Linked DNA regions of Homo sapiens: region 2 is linked to region 1. Evidence: fine-mapped expression QTL. A gene starts in region 1. The other region holds a variant in brackets. All regions are shown on one strand. Distances are from middle to middle.

Region 1 (8,321 bases):
GGTCACCGGGCGCGGGGAAACCGCCAGCCCACACCAGAGCAGAGGCCACTGCACCAGTCGGGACCAAGCCGCAGGTCTCCACATGGCCTCTGCTCTGGGGTATGCAGTTCTGCAAAGGAAACCCAGAGGTTGCGATAGAAGACGTAGCGCGGAGGCCACCACTGGTCCCAACACTGTGTCTTCCACCAAAGGGGTGCCGTTTCGCTCGGCCTTGGTACTCACTCTGTGAGCGATGGAGGCAGGGCATCCTCGAGTCTCCCGCACACGTGTGCGTGTTGTGTGTGTGTGTTGGGGGGGTGGCTAGTGTACGTGTATAGGCTTATGGGGACAATAAAAGGAGTGGGGTGCTTTTGGCAGCCGCTACGTTTCTTTCCGCTGAGACTTGAGAGGCCAGGGAGCAGAGGCGGCCAGCCGAGTGGGCGAGAGCCCGGCCTGACGTGGGGAGGAGACGTCTTCTCGTCGGGAGGCTAGGTAGCGTGCGCCCTCTTCCCTCCCGTCCTCTCCCCGCGCCGCGCCGCGCCGGCCGCAGCCGGCAGGCTCGCTCCTCTGCCCGGTGTCTGTTTAACCCTCAACCCCTCCGCGGCAGCTGCGGGCAGAGGGATTCCTGGCCGCGCTAATCCTGGGGCTGGACCCCAACCCTGGTCGCCTGGAGCGCCCTTAGCCCTCCCGAACCTCGGGCCCGAAGGTCCCAGGGTGCCGGCACTCCCGCCACCCAAACGGGCCTGGGGGCCGTCAGGGGTCGACAGAAGGGGACCCTTGGCAAGGTCCCCATTGTTCCCCCGGGGCTGGGAAGCTGACTCACGCTCTGAGCACAGAGCGATGCGGAGTGTTTTCTCGGTAGCCTTTACCCGAGTGCTTTATTTAGACAGGCTTTATTTACAGTACACATGTTTTCGGCTCGTTATTCTGGAGGCGGGAATGGAAACTGGGCAGAGCAGGAGTTCTCCCCGTCAGCCTCACGTTTGGAAGGAGTTGAGAGTCAGCCGAGTCGAAGGATCCCGCTCCTGCTTGCTGTGTTCTCTAGGGAGATAATGTCGAAGAAAACAGTGAAGGGGTGGGAGTGGAGGGCGCTGGGGAACACAGAGCGTCAGCCTCTCCCATAGTGCCCACGCTTCAAAATGCATAACACCCAGAGGAAGGTGAGACATCCTCATGCCCATTTTAGAGGGTTCAGAGAGGGCAAGGGCCGCAGAAGGTCACACAGACAACAATCGGTTGTGCGAAAAGGGTCTTTAACTCCATTTCTTGGGCTTCCTCACGGGTTTAGACCTCCAGGATTACCCAGGTCTTGGTCTCTCGGGATTCCGGGAAGGGTCTTTCCTGGCGCCTCGAGTGGAGGTCAAGGCCAGCCAGGCGACTGGAAGGCCTCTGGTTGCCAGTCTGCAGTCAAGCATCCTTTTTGGCAGCGGCTCAGTAAGTGGGGTGGTCTGGTTAGGGACTGCAGGAAATTGTCTGAGCTAGATTAAATATTTTACAAAACCTTCGGGGGGCCTACGGTTGACTTGAAGCTGGCAATGTTAAACCAAACAAAAGTTAACGAGTTCTCTCCTGACTTTTTAGGTACAGTTCAGAGAAAACGGTGGGTAGCGCTCTTTAGAGGAAGCAAGTTTAATAGCGTTTCCTCTCATTTTTCTCCGTATCATTCTCTCTGCTGCTTGTAGAGCCTCATAGCCTCTCTGGGGCTGGGGTGGCAGAAAGGCCTCTTCGGGGTCCCTCTTTGAAAGGGCTGCAGCCGACTTGAGCTCCTGCGGCCACTGAATTCCATGCTTCTGACTCCTGCTTGGAGTAAAGTGCAGCCTCACCGGAAGTGCATGGCCCTAGGAACTGCACAGGACACAGTGCAGACACCTGAGGCCTCTTCTGGCCTTCCCCTAGGGCAACCCACGGGGTGGGAGGAGAAAGGCCTACACTTCAGGACTCACGACCTAGTAACAGCCTTTTCCTCGTTTTCTCTCCCTCTTTTGAGTCTTTAGCTGCAAATCCTGCACTGCTTTCTGAGGGTTGTCCTCAGTGTTTCCCTCCCTGAATCGCACACCCTTTTGTCCCTGCCTCCTGGCTTGAGTGTGACTGCTCCCTTGCACGATGCCCACCCCATTCCCATATTCAAGTTGCAGTGTAGAAGCTCTGCAGGCCAGAACTGAACTGCGGCCCTGCGAGAGAAGGAGGCAGCTTGACCTTTGCAGGAAGGGAAGAGAAGGCAGATTCACAGCTCGCAGCGCTGCAGGGAGACACAGAGATGCAGGCGTTGTCACAGCACCAGCAGCTCTAAGGGGAGCCTGTAAGAGGAAACCAGCTCCAGGAGGCGAGGGAGCTTCTGTGCGGAGTGTGTGCCCCAGCGAGATGCACAGGCCGCGCAGTGAGAGAGGAACTGCCTGGGGGAGCTGTGGCTGCTGCCAGCTCAGCGCAGTGTGGGGGTGGGATGGGGGCTCAGAGAGGCTGGGGGGCTAAGATTAGGGCTGCCGTGGAGGATGGGGCCTCTGGAGAAGACAATAACTAAAGGAAGCTGCTCTGAAGAGGCCAGACCACCTGCGTATGGCTCATCAGATGGGGGGCAAGGTCCCAGCAGCTTAGGAAAGTATGCCCTAGGAAAGATAGATTTGCCAAAGGACACAGAGACTGGAGCTTGGTTGGGTTTTTACACATTAATTTTTGGGGGTGGCATCTTTGAGACAGGACCTTCCTAGGGAAAAATAGAGAGCCCTATACTTCTAAATCCCAGGGGATCCCAGGCGCAATGAGCTACTCAGCGGGCAGCCCAGGCCCACCTAGGGTTTGTGTCCGGGCAAGGGGCTCCAGAGCGTGCAGCCCACATAGGTCCCTAACCAGGCTTTGGGGGAGGGGGTGGGTAGTGAAGGGGTGTGCCCGCTGTATATAGAGGCAGCTGCCATTTGAGGGTGGAGGTGGGGAAGGTGATGCCTCAGCTTCGGCGCTGGAAACCATTGTTTGAGTCTGCACCCAGCGCTTCTCCAGCAGGGCTAATTCTCCACGTGTCCAATTTTCGTGTCTGAAAAAAAACAGCAGCACAGAAACAAAACCATATGACAGGACTGGGCTGCAAACCTTGAAGAATCGAGAGGGTGGCGGAGGTTGCGGCTGGGAAGGGGGAGGGTAAATGTGTGTGTGTGTGTGTGTGTGTGTGTGTGTGTGCCTGTGTGTGTGTGTTGGGGGCGGTGGGGTGGCGCACAACTCAAAGTTTCGGCTATTTCCTACCCGATCTCACCTCCCGGCGTGCTCATCTGATGCAGTTCCAACTCCCTCAAACGATTCCGCAGCCCCAGCGCTTGCGGGAGTGTGGAATTACAGTCTGGAAGAAGCGAGGCGCTGCCGCGAGAGGCGACGCACCGAACCCGGGAGTGCGGAAGCGCAGGCCGGCAGCAGCGCGACCCCTGGGCAGCCTCTGGGCCGCGGTCAGCCCCTGCGGCTCCGTCCTCCTGCCGGTCCCGAGCGGAGAGATGGGTCAACGCAAACCCTCAGCAGGATGGGGGGAGGGGAAAGAAGGGAGACAAGGCTTTTCCCAGAAAGCGGAGGGGAACTCGCTTCCCATCTCCGAGGCGCGATGATGCCCCCATCCCCCGCGCCCCGACCTCCCTGAGATTCGTTTCCTTAAAAAATAGCCAAAGGCCAAACATTTAGCTACGGGTTGAGTCTTCTTCCCACCCCCACCCGGTGCCCTCTCTGAGTTCTCTAAACCCACGAGGCGCTTTAGGCCTGGCGTCCCCCGCCCTCCCCCGCTTCCGCCTGTGCACGAGCCAGTGGCGGTCACTTCTGCGACTCTTTGGAGGCCGACGGCCAGGAGCTTTGTTCTCCTGGGGCTTCCTGCCCCTCCCCCCTCCAAGTCATCCCGGTTTCCACACTTTATCTGCGCCCCCCCTTTGACGTCCGCGCACACAAACAACCCGGGCCTATAATCTCATTAGCATAGGTCTCGGTCTGGGTGACCGCGAGGCTCCCTGCGCGCCCGCGCGCAGCGCTCTGTTTCGCTGCAAGCCGGAGTTTCCACCATGCATGCACCCGGGGCGGGGGGCGGGGACGTTCCGGGTGACAGTGTTGGCTTTGGGGCAGGCCGGGAAGAGGAGGCCGCCCGGGGCAGCGGGAGCCGCGGGAGGAAGGCCCCTCCCAGCGCCCAGTTGCCTTGGTCCCCGGAGCAGATGGCAACTTTGTCTCCTGGTGTGCGCGCAGCGACTTTCAACACATTGAAAAAGCAGTGCTCAGGCTGTCGGGGAAGCCTCGCTGACATTCAGAACCGATTAAAGACCCGAGACGGTGCCAGGCGCAGTGGAGAGTTATGAATTAATCATGGGGGTTACCGATATCTGAGGCTCCCCAGGGCAGTCCTTCTATTATAAGCAGCCCCCACTGCCCACTCCTGACCCGCTCCCCCCTCCCCCGCCGCCGCAAAGGGGTAGTCGCGGCGTCTTTTGCACTGCCCCAATTAACAGCCACGCGGTAATGTGAAAAGTGTTTGCCCTGCCACCCTCAGTGCGGTCTCAGGCCGGGGCGCTGGGCCTGCCAGACGCTCGCGGAGCAGCTCAGTCTTTGGGATAGGCCCGGAATGAGCTCTGTGCTCTGACCCGGGTATGGGGTGGAGTGATGCTCGTTCTCTGCCTCTGTGGCCCAGGTTCAGCTCCCTTCACCACCGTAGAAGGAGGCCCTAGATAGTGGGCGACGTCGGGGACCACCTACAACCTGGGTGCTTGTTTTGGGTCCCCAGAGCAGCTACAGGCTCGTGGTTTCGCGTTGTGGCTCTGGCGATGTTCCAGATATGGAAAAACGAGGTTCGTGTGTGCCGTGGAACTCCGCAAAGTCCCTGGGCCTCCTAGGAGGAACCCCCATGTCTGGAGTCACCCTAAATGACCCGCACCCCTGGGAATCGAGGCACACATCTCGACCACCGAACTTGCCGTTCTGCGTATTGTTAAATCACGCACACCGTTCTAATCTCCCCTATTTATTTCCCAGGCCTGCCTGGCCACAGATTTCTGCAAGACGGAGCAGGCTTCGGGTTCCTCCTGCTTCCAGAGGGGCCATAAAAAACAGATGGTCTCATTAGGAACAATTTATGCATATATATTTCGAAGAGTTCAGCAGAGCCGGCGTAGGTTTGCAGCCCCTGCGTCAGGCAAGAGCAAAATATCACCACTTGCAAATGTTTCCAGTTTGCAAAATAATGGCCTATCCAAAGTAGCTAAGCAACGAATTACTCAAACACTAGAAGGTTAGATGCCAATATTATCACATTCGTCCTGTTCCTTAAACCGTCCTCCTCCGCGGTCTTTGGATTTCGGATGGAGGCTCCTGGGCCTCACACCCCTACGCCCGCGGCTTCCTTTCATGACTATTTCCAATCTCCAAGTCAAATCACTTATTAATTATAGAGGCAACTCGAGCAAACCCAATTACCCGTAGGCAGCCCTTCCCAGATGGGAAGTCTGTCTCGCACGGCTCCCACGGTGGCCCAGTTTCTTCTGGGGAGGTTTCTTTTGCGTCCGATTTCTTTTTGTCAGTGGTCCGCCAGCGGCCCTGAATGTTTCCTCTGCCTGATTCTTCTTCCTAGAGGCAACTCCATTTTCTTACCCTGTTCCCTTTCCTTCTTCCAAGGAGACATCCCCGCCCCTTAGGAGCCGCTGCCTTCGGGCTAAATTTACCGCCGCGCCAAGTTTAAGCCTTAGGCGTTGCAGATCTGGCGTAGGAATGGCGGAAGCTGTAGACAGAGCCCTATTCATTTGCAAAGGCGGAAGGCAGAGTGATTCGCTCAGTTGGCTGCCCCTCGTCTCGTCTGTCCTCCCTTCAGACGTAGCCGGTGGCTTAGGTTCACCTCGGTTTGTGGGATGTGTCCTAGGACTCCGCGAGGCTTACCCCTGGTGGGAAAAAGCCTACTTCACTTTTAATGTCCTCACAGTTCTGGCCATATGGTAATAATAATGCTAACCACCAGGACTTTGTGCTAAGCATTTGACATATAACTATATCTTCTTTAAACCTCGTAGCCACACTTATACGAATATCCCTCCCATTTTGTAGATAAAGAAACTGAGGTTAAGAAACTGGCCTCAAATCACACAGTTAGTTGAAAATGAAGCCCTTAATCCAAAGCCTGAGTTTGCATTCACAGCGCCAAAGACACCTTCCAGAAGAGTACAAACCATAGGGGGCGGTTGGGGGCCTGTTTGCTTGCAGCAAAGGACGCCTGGGAGCGCAAAGGCCTCGGAGGTTGCAGTCAGGAGGTCTAGGCGTCGAGCTGCGAATAGCAAAGCACGCCGGCGGGACTCCAGGGAAACAGGCACACCTGGGATTTGGGGCGCTAGGGGAGCTGTGCTGGCTAGGGGCAGAGTTTTGGGGTGAAGCGCGGCTGCTAGAGTCTTGCAGCGCGTGGAGCTGGGTACTGCCACCCTTTCGCTACCGCAAAAGTCGCTTCCTCGGCTGTGGTGCCCTTGGGACGCGCTGTGGGGTGCGGTGGGCTCGCCTTGGCGATCTTGAGGGTGTGCAGGGTGCGGGGAGCCTCGGGAGGGTCCCCAGGGGTAGTTGGCCTCGGTCGCGCTGCCAGGGCACCCTCGCTAATATGGAGCCAGCAGTTCCGCGGAGGAGGGGAGGGGAGGAGAGGAGAGGGGAGGAGAGGGGAGCCGAGAGAGGGATGCGCGGGCGAGCTGGTAACCGTCTGCAGCGAGGAGTGTAATTGCCCCTGTGACCGCGGGCGACGAAGGCGGGGCGCTCGCCTGGCCGCCTCCCTCCCACTCCGCCAGCGGCGCGGAGCTGGCTTTTGGCCGAGAAGGCGCGGAGCACCTCCAGGGCCTGGCCGGCTCAGCGCTAGGCGAGGCCACTCCTAGCCCTCGCCGCTTGGACAGCTGTCCCCGGCGCTCCAGCCTGGGGCCTTCCACAGCGCGGGGCCCACTTCCCTCTGCCCCCAGGCCAGTTCAGGCAGCAGCCTCCCTCTTCTTTAGGGTGCGCCCTGGCCGGGGCCTGGGGCTGTCAGCTGCGCCCTGGTGACCCCGCCGCCTCCTTCCCTGGAGAGCGGCGTTGAGGGGGCGAGGCGGCCACCCTCGGATGCCAGGTGGCTTATGTGACCCTCCACCCCACGCCCTGGCCAGGGCGCACCCTGAAGCCGGTGCGCTTCGGGTCGCCCTGGGCCACCACAGATCAGCAAGGCCGACCTCGGCTGCGCGGCACTTGGCCGTGGGTCCCAGGGTCAGAAGGTAGAAGGGCCGTCGGGGCAGTCTCTGCGCCCCCGGATCTCCCCGCGCTTTCGGCGTGTGAGCTTTGTCCTTTGGTGGGGCTCCTGGCCACGGGCCGAACGGAGGGGGCCGGGCCGGAGGTGGGGAGGGAGGCCGAGGCCGGCCAGGGATTCCGGAGTTTGTAACCCGTGTAGTTTCTGGCTTTCACGGCTCGTTTGAAATCCTCCCACAGGAAGATGTCTGCCAAGGAGGCCTGCGCGGCTCGGAGCCCCGCGCGGCCACCCGGGTGTGTGAGTGTGCGGTGTGTGTGTGTGTGTGGATGTGTGTGGATGTGCGTGCCTGCGCCCGCTATTCCCGGGAGGGGAGGGAGAGCCAGCGCCGGCACTTTCCCGGCGGCAGCGCTGCGAGAGTGGCGTGCGGCGCAGGGCCTGGCACCCAGGGCTCGCCCGCGCCCCGGGCTCGGCCCCGCCGGCACCCCGCGCCCCTCTAGCGCCTTTCTCCCTGCCCCCGCGGCAGGAACTGTTAACCCAGGCAGGTGACGGCGCCCCGGCGCCCGTCGTGCGTTGGTCTTTATACCTCGTGAGTTCAACACTAATGAGTTATGGGTTGGCCCACGAAAACATAATGTGTAAATTAGGAATTTAATGATGTGTAAGATTAAAAGCTGCGCAGGGTTGCATTTATTTAAGGCTGCCATCTTGTGTTCGCAGAGAAATTACTTGAACGACATTGACCCCCCTCGCCCAGAGGACTGGAAATGGCGCGGGGGCGGGGGTGGCTTGTGGGGTTCCAGGCAGTGGGACTTGAGGCCCCTCGGGGCTGTTGTAGGGTAGGAGGGAGCCCTGCGCGCGGGCTGGGACTGACTTTGGGTGGTTGCCTATGCAGGAAGCCTGTAGAGCGGCAGATTAAGACCCCTCCCGCCCCATCCTCTTTCCTGGGTCCAGGATTGGCAAGACTCGGGGTGGGGGGGTCGTCAATTCTTGGAAAAGTTATTGCTCCAACCTGTCTTGATGCCCTTCGTACTTTGTAGGGGTTGTTTCCAGAATTCAAAAGCACCTCTTTTTATACAGTTATTATATTATTGTCTTTTACCCATTTCTCTTTAGTTGCCCAAACCCAAGCTGCAGGGGTTGGGTCTGCCCTCATTAAGAT
Region 2 (8,321 bases), 160 kb after region 1:
CCTCCCCTTTCTTTAGGTACCAGGCACCCCTCCAGCTTCTATATATAGCACTCTGTGGCGACAGCTGGCTATCTGATGACTCATCAGTCACCGTGGGCGTCTCCGGATGGAACCCTGAACATTTATTCAGAGGGTGCTTTTGCCAGTTTCTGAACGACTCCTAGTAAGTCCTGCCTTTTGGGGATTGTTTTAACCCCATGGAGATTGGGGGTTTGAAGACTCAGTGGGTTCCTGTCTGAAGGCCTCTGGGGGCTTAAAAAGTCCAGTGGGGCTTTGGGGAACTGGCTCCAGGTAAGCCTGTGAACGCAGAGGAATGCATTCTCAAACTGAGGGCTTGAGTGGTCTCTCCTTGGTCATCTGTCCATCTAAGTACCTGGCTGGCCCCAGATTGCCCCTGGAAGTGGGGCTTGGGAGATGTTAGCTCCTTTCAGGAGCTGCAGGGCTCCTCCCATGTATTTTCTGTGGGGCATCAAAGACCCAGGGCTGGCTTTGGAGCTGGGTTTAATGTAGGCTGCTCTGCTCACCAACTCCACCATCCTGGGCAAGTCCCTTCTGCTCTCTGGGTTTCCGTTTCCTCCTCTGTGCAATGCAGTCAATACCATTGTGGCCGTCTGGTTCTGAGGGTTGGAGGAGGTGCCGTCTGTAACAACTGTTATTACTGTGCAGCCCAGGGGCCCCATCACTTCGGTTTTCTCAGAAGCAGCTTCTGAGACGCGGATTCGTGTGGAAGCAATTTATTAAGGAAGTGCTCCCAAGAAACACGGAAGGGTATGGAAGGGCAGGACCAAGAAGGGGAGGAAGCCAGTTTCAGACAAAGTCCCTCTGCAGAAGGGTCTTAGTCCATCCAGGCTGCTGTAACACGGTACCACACGCGGGGGGGCTGATAAACCACAGACACGTACTTCTCATGGTTCTGGAGGCTGAGAGGCCGAGATCAGGGTACCAGCACGGTCGGGTTTGGGGGAGGGCCCTCTTCTGGGCTGTAGATTGCCAACTTTTCCTTGTGCCCTCACATGGCAGAGACAGGGAGAGAGAGCTCTCTGGGGTCGCTTTTTATAAGGGCACTGACCCCCTTCATGAGGGCTCCATCCTCATGACCTCATGACCTCCCAAAGGAGGAGCTCTGGAGGGCAAGTGTCAACTCAGAGCCTGTCCTGACTCCAGGCAAGAGCACTGTACCTGCATGCTCCCTTGCACCAGCTAGGAGCTACCGTGAGTGTGGGGATTGAAACTCCTGGGTACTTCTGGCTCTGAGGGGGATGTGCCCCGGGCGGGCCTGCAAAGAGTCCCAGGCACAGGCTGTGGGAATTAGGAGAGGGGAAGCTATATGGGGTGGGGGAAGGAGCCCGAGGGGATGTGGGTGAAGCATCTAGAGTGTCCCCACCACCCCTTTGCTTATCTGTCCTCCCACCAGAGGGGGCCAGGCCAGCACCCCTGTATGGATGGGACTGGGGCCGGGGAAGGAGGCTGGAGTCAGGAGGAGAGGCACCACCCAGGCCTTACTCTTCATATGGGTGGAACCATCCCATGAACAAGTGGGATGAGGAAGCCTGAGGAGCTTTTGGCCAAGCTTAGCCTCTGGGGGTGCCCAACACTGGGCACGGATAGGGCTGGGGCACAGACCCAATATTCCAGTACCTCCAAGTCTTTTGTCCGGCACCCAGGCTAGGGGCCCTGAAGATGCTTCACTGTCCAGCGGGATGGGGTTGGGGAAATATTTTTGTTCTCTTCAGCTCAGTAGCCTTCTTCCTTCCTTTCATCACCTTGTCTAAGACTGGCCGGGTCTTTTCTCAAGGTCACCCCAGGAACCAGGGTTCCTTGGGTTCTGTCGCCAGCTCTGGGCACCTCTCCACCATGGGCCACCTGGCTCTTTCATTTTCTTACTTCCAACTTCCACCTTCTCTTCTGCAGCATTGAGCTGCTTTTCTCAGCCTCTCTGGACTTAAAGCAACTTGGCCCAAAGGCTGCCAGTTGCCCTTTCTCAACCCTCCAATGCTTCTGTGCCCTCTACCAGGGATGGGGCTGTGGAATCCAGAGCACACCCGGTTGCCTTCCCTAAATTTCCATTCACCAGCAAAGATGAGTTTATTTTCCACTGTCAGGAATTCAGAGTTTGAATGATTTTACCACTGCTCTGTTCTTGGTGCAGCTGGGATTCTATTTATCACTGGGTTAGGAATTTCACTTCCTGCCTTTTCCATCCCAGAAGAATTCTCTCCCCTCCCCTCCCTTCCTCTTCTCTCTTTCCCCCTTCTCTCCTTTCCTCTTTTCCCTTCTCCTCTGCCTGCTTTTCCATCCCTCTCCCCTTCTCCTCTCCTTCCCCACCCTCCTCTTCCCCCCTTTCCATTTTGTTCCCCTTCTCCATTCTCTCCCTTTTTTCTTCCCCCCTCTCCCCTGCCCTTTTCTGTCTCCTCTCCTTTCTCCCCTTCCCTTTTTCTCTCTTCCCCCTCCTCTCCCTCTCCCGCCCCTCCCCCACATACTGTTTTGCTGTCCTCAGGGTGACGGTGACTTAGGCCAGCCCTGGGGATGGGTGGGAGAGCAGCTGAGAATCCAAAGGCAGGAGAGTGCACAAAAAAGAGATATGTCGACAAGTGGCTAGGGACCATGTTCCTGCTTTAGCTACGCACTGTGTCAAGCGCTGAAAGTCACTACACAGGCAGTCATTATTATGATTTTTACCTTACAAAAAATGCTTCACCCAGGGCATGGCATCTACTTGGTATTCAGTAGCAGTCAAATTGGAAAAAGGAGGCTTTCAAAGAGTCATTAAGACAAACACTGTTTGAAAATTATACAGAAATTCTATTTAGCTATTTGAAAATGAAAGAGTATTATACTGTCTTTGTAAAAATGCTTTTTTTCCAGTTGCTCACTGATTTTTTTCCCCCCAGTTGCGGTGGCTGATTAGTGTTTTCGTAGCGTCTCTTCCAGTTCACCGCAGACCTGCTGTTCCGTGGAGTCTGGTGTTGCAAAGCTTGTTGCAAAGCTTGTGCTGAGGAACTGCGAGGGGTCTCTGGGAATCTCTCTCAGGTTGCCGGGACCAGAGAGCCATGTGTCTGGCTAATGTGACCATCCCTCAACAAGGGTACTGCTCACTGGATTTCTCTACACAGACTCCCCTCCTGAGGAACTGACTAGGCATGAAAGATCTCCCCCAAGAATTGTTTAGTGACAGCTTAAGCTAGGCTAGCCTCTCTGCCTCACTAAGCTCAGCTGAGGTCAGAGTGGTGGGGTGTGACGCCCGCAACTCCGGGCAGTTAACTCACACAAAGGGAAAACTCTCTCCCCACCTTGCCTACCTGCCTCCCTGCCTGTGGGCAATTTTGCCAATGTTTTCCATTAGTCACAAAGGAGAGGGGCAGGTGGGGGCAGGGTGGTCAGTGGGGACAATCATTACACAGGAAGAAAACCAAAACCATATTACTATCTAAGGCACTGTGCTAAGTGCTGGCATTAGGGTTGCATTTGGTGAAAATCCACATATAACACAGAAAAATCTATGAACCATCTAGAAATCCTAACTTCTTGACCCTTGAACTCCTTCTTTAAGAAGATCACTTGTTCATGGAGGGCTTCCCTGACCCCTGGGCAGGCTCCTTCCCCATTCTCTTGGCTGCTTCTGCCAGCACTTGGTGTCCTTTGCCTGAGGCTCTCTTTGGCTGCGTGAGTGGGCAGCCCTCCCTAACACCCTCAACTCTGACTGTTAGGATTCCGTAAGTAAATGCTCCAGCCTCCTCATCCTTCAGGAGGGATGATCTGAGGTGTGTTCCACACTGTCAACCAGGGGTATCCTGCAGGACCCAGCCCCATTTGCCCCAACAAATGCGGACAAATGGGTGGGAGCCTACTTATCAATACGGCCTCTGACTGCCCCCCTGGCTCTCTCTCCATGTCCTCATTGCCCTACTGATGCTTCCTGGAATCACCTCCCAAAGAAACTGCTTGCACACAAAACCTTGTATGCAAGACATTTGCAATCTAAATTAAGTCTCCCTGTTCTTTCTCAGGGCACTCCCCACCCCCAGCTTAATAGCACTCATCATGATATGTAATTATGCATTTGTTTGTGTATCTATTTGTTTAATGAGGGCAGAGACAATGTCTATTTTGTTCACCACTAAATCCCTGCACATCACTCAACCCAGAGCTTAACATGTGGTAGATGCTCAACGTAAATTCTGTTGAAGGAATGAATGTAACATCATTAGAGCTTTCTAATCTTTCACCCTTTGGGGTGGTTCAAAAACATGACCCCAAAGTTTCCTGACACTCCTTCCAATGAGAAGCGGGGTCCTTCTCTCCTTGAATCTGGATACGCTGGTGACAGCTTCAACTAAGAGAATGAAAGGGCTAGGTCATAAAAGGCCACACAGCTTCTGCCCTGAAGCCCTGAATAGCTGTCATGTAAGAACTCTGACTACCCTCAGCCGGCCATGCTGAGAGGAGGCCCAATTAATATGAAGGGACAACACATAGGTGCAGAGATCCATAGTCCCAACTGAGCCCAGTCTCCAAGTCATTTCAGCCTAAGTACCAGATGTGTGAATGAAGAAGCTTCTGGATGATTCCAGCCCCCAGCTCTTTTCAAGTCTTCTCAACTGAGACCCCAGACATTGTGGAGCAGAGAGATCCACAATGCTTTGGCCCGTCCAAATTCCTGACTTATGGAAACTTCGAGCATAATAAAACCGTTGTTAAGCTGCTAAATTTTGGAGTAATTTGTTATGCAGAAATAATTGGAAGACCTTGATTGTGAGTTTATTAATTCTGCATTTATTTGAAAGTCATTTATCAAGTTCCTACTATGTGCCAGGTGATGGTTACACAGTAGCAAACAAGGGAAAGATCCCTACCTTCCGGGAACTTACAATCTAGGGGCTGCTGTTGTAACTGTATCTTGCAAAAGCCTACATGTTGCTTTTTAACAATAATGAGTAGGTTTTTCTGAAACCACTTCCAGATGGTGTGGGGGGAGGGGTGCTTCC[G/A]GAGTGAGTTGCTAAGGGAAGCTCCAGGGGTAGGTGGATTAGATAACACAGACCCAGGGAGCTCTATTATTTGCTGGCTGTCAACCACCACTGTCCTGCAAATCATCCACAGACTAGCTGCACCCCCACACTAAGGGGGAGAGATTAGGGAAGCTGGGAGGTGCCATCCTTGAGGCAGAAGGAGAGGGGAACTGCTCCCCGCAGGCCCTGGAAAAGAGATGGTGCCTGCCTCTTGGAGGAAGATGGCATTGGCTTGTCCAAAGCTGGAGTAGGAGGACTTAAGAAAGCTGAGGCCACTGGCTGGCACTTCAGCTCCCTTATCTGACTCCGGGAGGCAGGTCTGGAATCAAAGTTGCCCCTGTGTGTCCAGACGTGCCTCACTCATGAACATGATTTTATGCCCCTTATGTTTCTGCTCCTCCTTCATTCTTTAACAAAGCAAGACATTTTTATCTGCCTGTCTCGACTCTGCTAAGGTGAAACAAAGAAAAGGACTCTGTCCTTTGAAGGACTAGTCATGAAGGGTGTTTTCTCCTAGGGGTGACCTTTGGTATCAAGGTACAAACTGCAAGAGGAAGGGGAATTCCAGGAGGAAAGTTTGGGTGTTTAGCGTCTCATGTCTGCCTGGAGCTTTTCCATCCTGGAAACCTGCTTTTGTTTAACCCTGGAAGGTTCTGGGGCCTATACAAGGAAGGGCGGCCATGTTAGGGACACTGTTCAGTAAAACAGGACCCACCTCTCCCAGCGGCTGGTGATAGAAGTGGAGTCAATGCAGACAGGCTGTGAATTGGGCTGTTTTTGTGTCAGTATAAAGAAATACCTGAGATTGGGGAATTTATAAAGAAAAGAGGTTTCATTGGCTCTTGATTCTGCAGGTTGTACAGGAAGCATGGTGCTGGCATCTGCTTCCGATGAGGGCCTCAGGGAGCTTACAATCATGGTGGAAGACGAAGGGGAGCCAATGTTTCACATGTTGAGAGTGAGAGCAAGAGAGAGGGAGGGGAGGCAGCCACACACTTTTAAACAACCAGATTTTTTTTTTTTTTTAGATGGAGTCCTGCTCTGTTGCCCAGGCTGGAGTGCAGCAGCGTGATCTCGGCTCACTGCAACCTCCACCTCCCAGGTTCAAGCGATTCTCCTGCCTCAGGCTCCTGAGTAGCTGCGATTACAGGCGCGTGCCACCATGCCCGGCTAATTTTTGTATTTTTAGTAGAGGCAGGGTTTCACCATGTTGGTCAGGCTAGTCTCGAACTCCTGACATCGTGATCCACCCGCCTCGGCCTCCTAAAGTGCTGGGATTACAGGCGTGAGCCACCCTGCCTGGCCTAAGCAACCACATCTTGCATGAACTAACTGAGCGAGAACTCACTTATCACTGAAGGGATGGCGCTACACCATTCACGAGGGGCTATTCCCATGATCCAATCACCTCCCACCAGGCCCCACCTCCAACAGTGGGGATCACATTTCAACATGAGATTTGGAGAGGACAAACATCCAAACGATATCAGGCTGAAAACACGGCTGGCACTTGAAACTTTAGAGAAGTCACCTTTTCCCTGGGCTCCTCGCTCTGGTCTCCCTGAGACTGTCACAGCGGCTTCATAGGTGCTTCGAGTTTCTTTGCCACCCCCTGATCAGGCCTTCTGTGTTTTGTAGTAGTCGCCTTCCCAGATTTATTGAGTAGCTCAGCTGAACCAAGGTCTGAGCATTCAATTAGGTCTTGTTATTCATCCGTTCACCAAATATTTAGTGAGCCATGTGCCAGGCACATTTCTAGCTGCTGATACAGCTGTGAACAAGACAGATGAAGCCCTTGCCCTTCGTGGAGCTCACATTTTAATAAATAGTTTGGAGGCGGACAAAGAGAAAATAAACAGAGAAACACGAACCTGGAGCATTTGGCTCACAACTTAGAGTTGACTCATCTTCAGTTTGACGTCCCTCCTGCTACGAGTTCCTGGCTAACTGACATCTCTTCTCCTCAAGCAGATGCTAACTTTGAGCCCTACCACTGGTGAGTGCCCCTAAAGGCTCACACCTGTGATCCCAGCACTTTGGGAGGCCGAGGTGGGCAGATCACTTGAGGTCAGGAGTTCGAGACCAGCCTGGCCAACATGGTAAAACCCCATCTCTAGTAAAAAAAAAAAAAAAAGACACAAAAATTAGTTGGGAGTAGTGGCTCATGCCTGTAATCCCAGCTACTGGGGAGGCTGAGGCAGGAGAATCGCTTGAACCTGGGAGGAGGAAGTTGCAGTGAGCCAAGATCACGCCACTGCACTCCAGCCTGGGCAACAGAGCAAGACTCTGTCTAAAAATATATATATATATATATATATATTCCAGCTTCAAGATGTCCTGGCACAAGAGATCTAGATCCATGTTCTCTCTCAGTTGGCTAAGGTCCACTTTCTGAACACCAGTAGGGCCACTTTCCACTTCCAGACGTTTTCTTCCCAAGTGATTGATGGAACAGGTGACGTCATCCTCAGAGCACACCCTGTTCGTTACCACTAACCCTGACCTCTACGGGATAACATTGGCAGGGACCTTCCTACACTTACTTTAGTAACAGAGATAGATTGCTTTATCACTGGGAGTTTCCTTATTATTTTAAAAATAAGTTAGTGTTTTGGAGGAGGAAATAACATTTCCCCGAGATTTAGGGGAACACTGCAGCTAACAAGGCCCTCTGAAACGGCACCAAACAGAAGAACATGTTAAGACACTATCCTTATTAGGATGGTGGGGCGCTTCCTCTGTCTCGTGGTTAATTCCGGGCGCTTCTCTCCTTCAGATTCCTGACTTCCTCTGGTAAGCCCCTCTGGATTAACCTGTCACACTCTGTCAGTCCTGACACAGGCAGCTCTCTGTGTCCAGGTCCTGGTGGCATTATATTATCTCCAACTTCGGAGTTGCACTATTTATTTTCCATCGAAAATTAGACCAGGAGCTTCACCGAGGTAGGGGTCGGGATTTATTTCCTTGACAGATTTCCCATCTTCTAGTGTCTAATTTACAACATGTGCAGGGCATGCCCTCCAAAACTTGGTAAGTCCTTAGCCAAACCATTTTGAACTCCCCATGTGACAGCTGAGTAACCCTTCTTATCCCTCTCTCCTTCTTCATCATCACCCCACCTTTTGCAAAGGAATTGCTGTCCCATGTCTCTCATGGAGGGGAGTGTGTGTGTGTGTGTGTGTCTGTGTGTGCATATGCATGCATGTCTGTGTGTGTGGGAAGGGGTTGAGGGTCTCCTATAAAATACATTTTTTCCTGTCATTCTCATTCATGATGCAAACTCTGTCTCCCTGTCTGTGTTTTCTTTTTCCCTGT

The links.
Region 2: its variant is fine-mapped to the expression of LINC03053 in whole blood (TOPMed, PIP above 0.99).

Annotation. Positions count from the first base shown.
Region 1 is chrX:40,004,701-40,013,021 of GRCh38, reverse strand. It overlaps LINC03053 (long intergenic non-protein coding RNA 3053), which reads right to left and starts at 3,772. Exons shown (of 2, transcript XR_007068218.1): 1 at 3,221-3,772; 2 at 828-3,004. RefSeq lists a silencer at 477-526 and enhancers at 258-981, 4,005-4,632, 5,852-6,788, 8,302-8,321.
Region 2 is chrX:39,847,606-39,855,926 of GRCh38, reverse strand. No RefSeq gene overlaps it. Among named protein-coding and RNA genes, the nearest start is that of MIR1587, 14 kb to the right of the region's middle. RefSeq lists enhancers at 100-179, 450-569, 2,318-2,612. The variant G/A (reference allele first, on the strand shown) is at 4,986.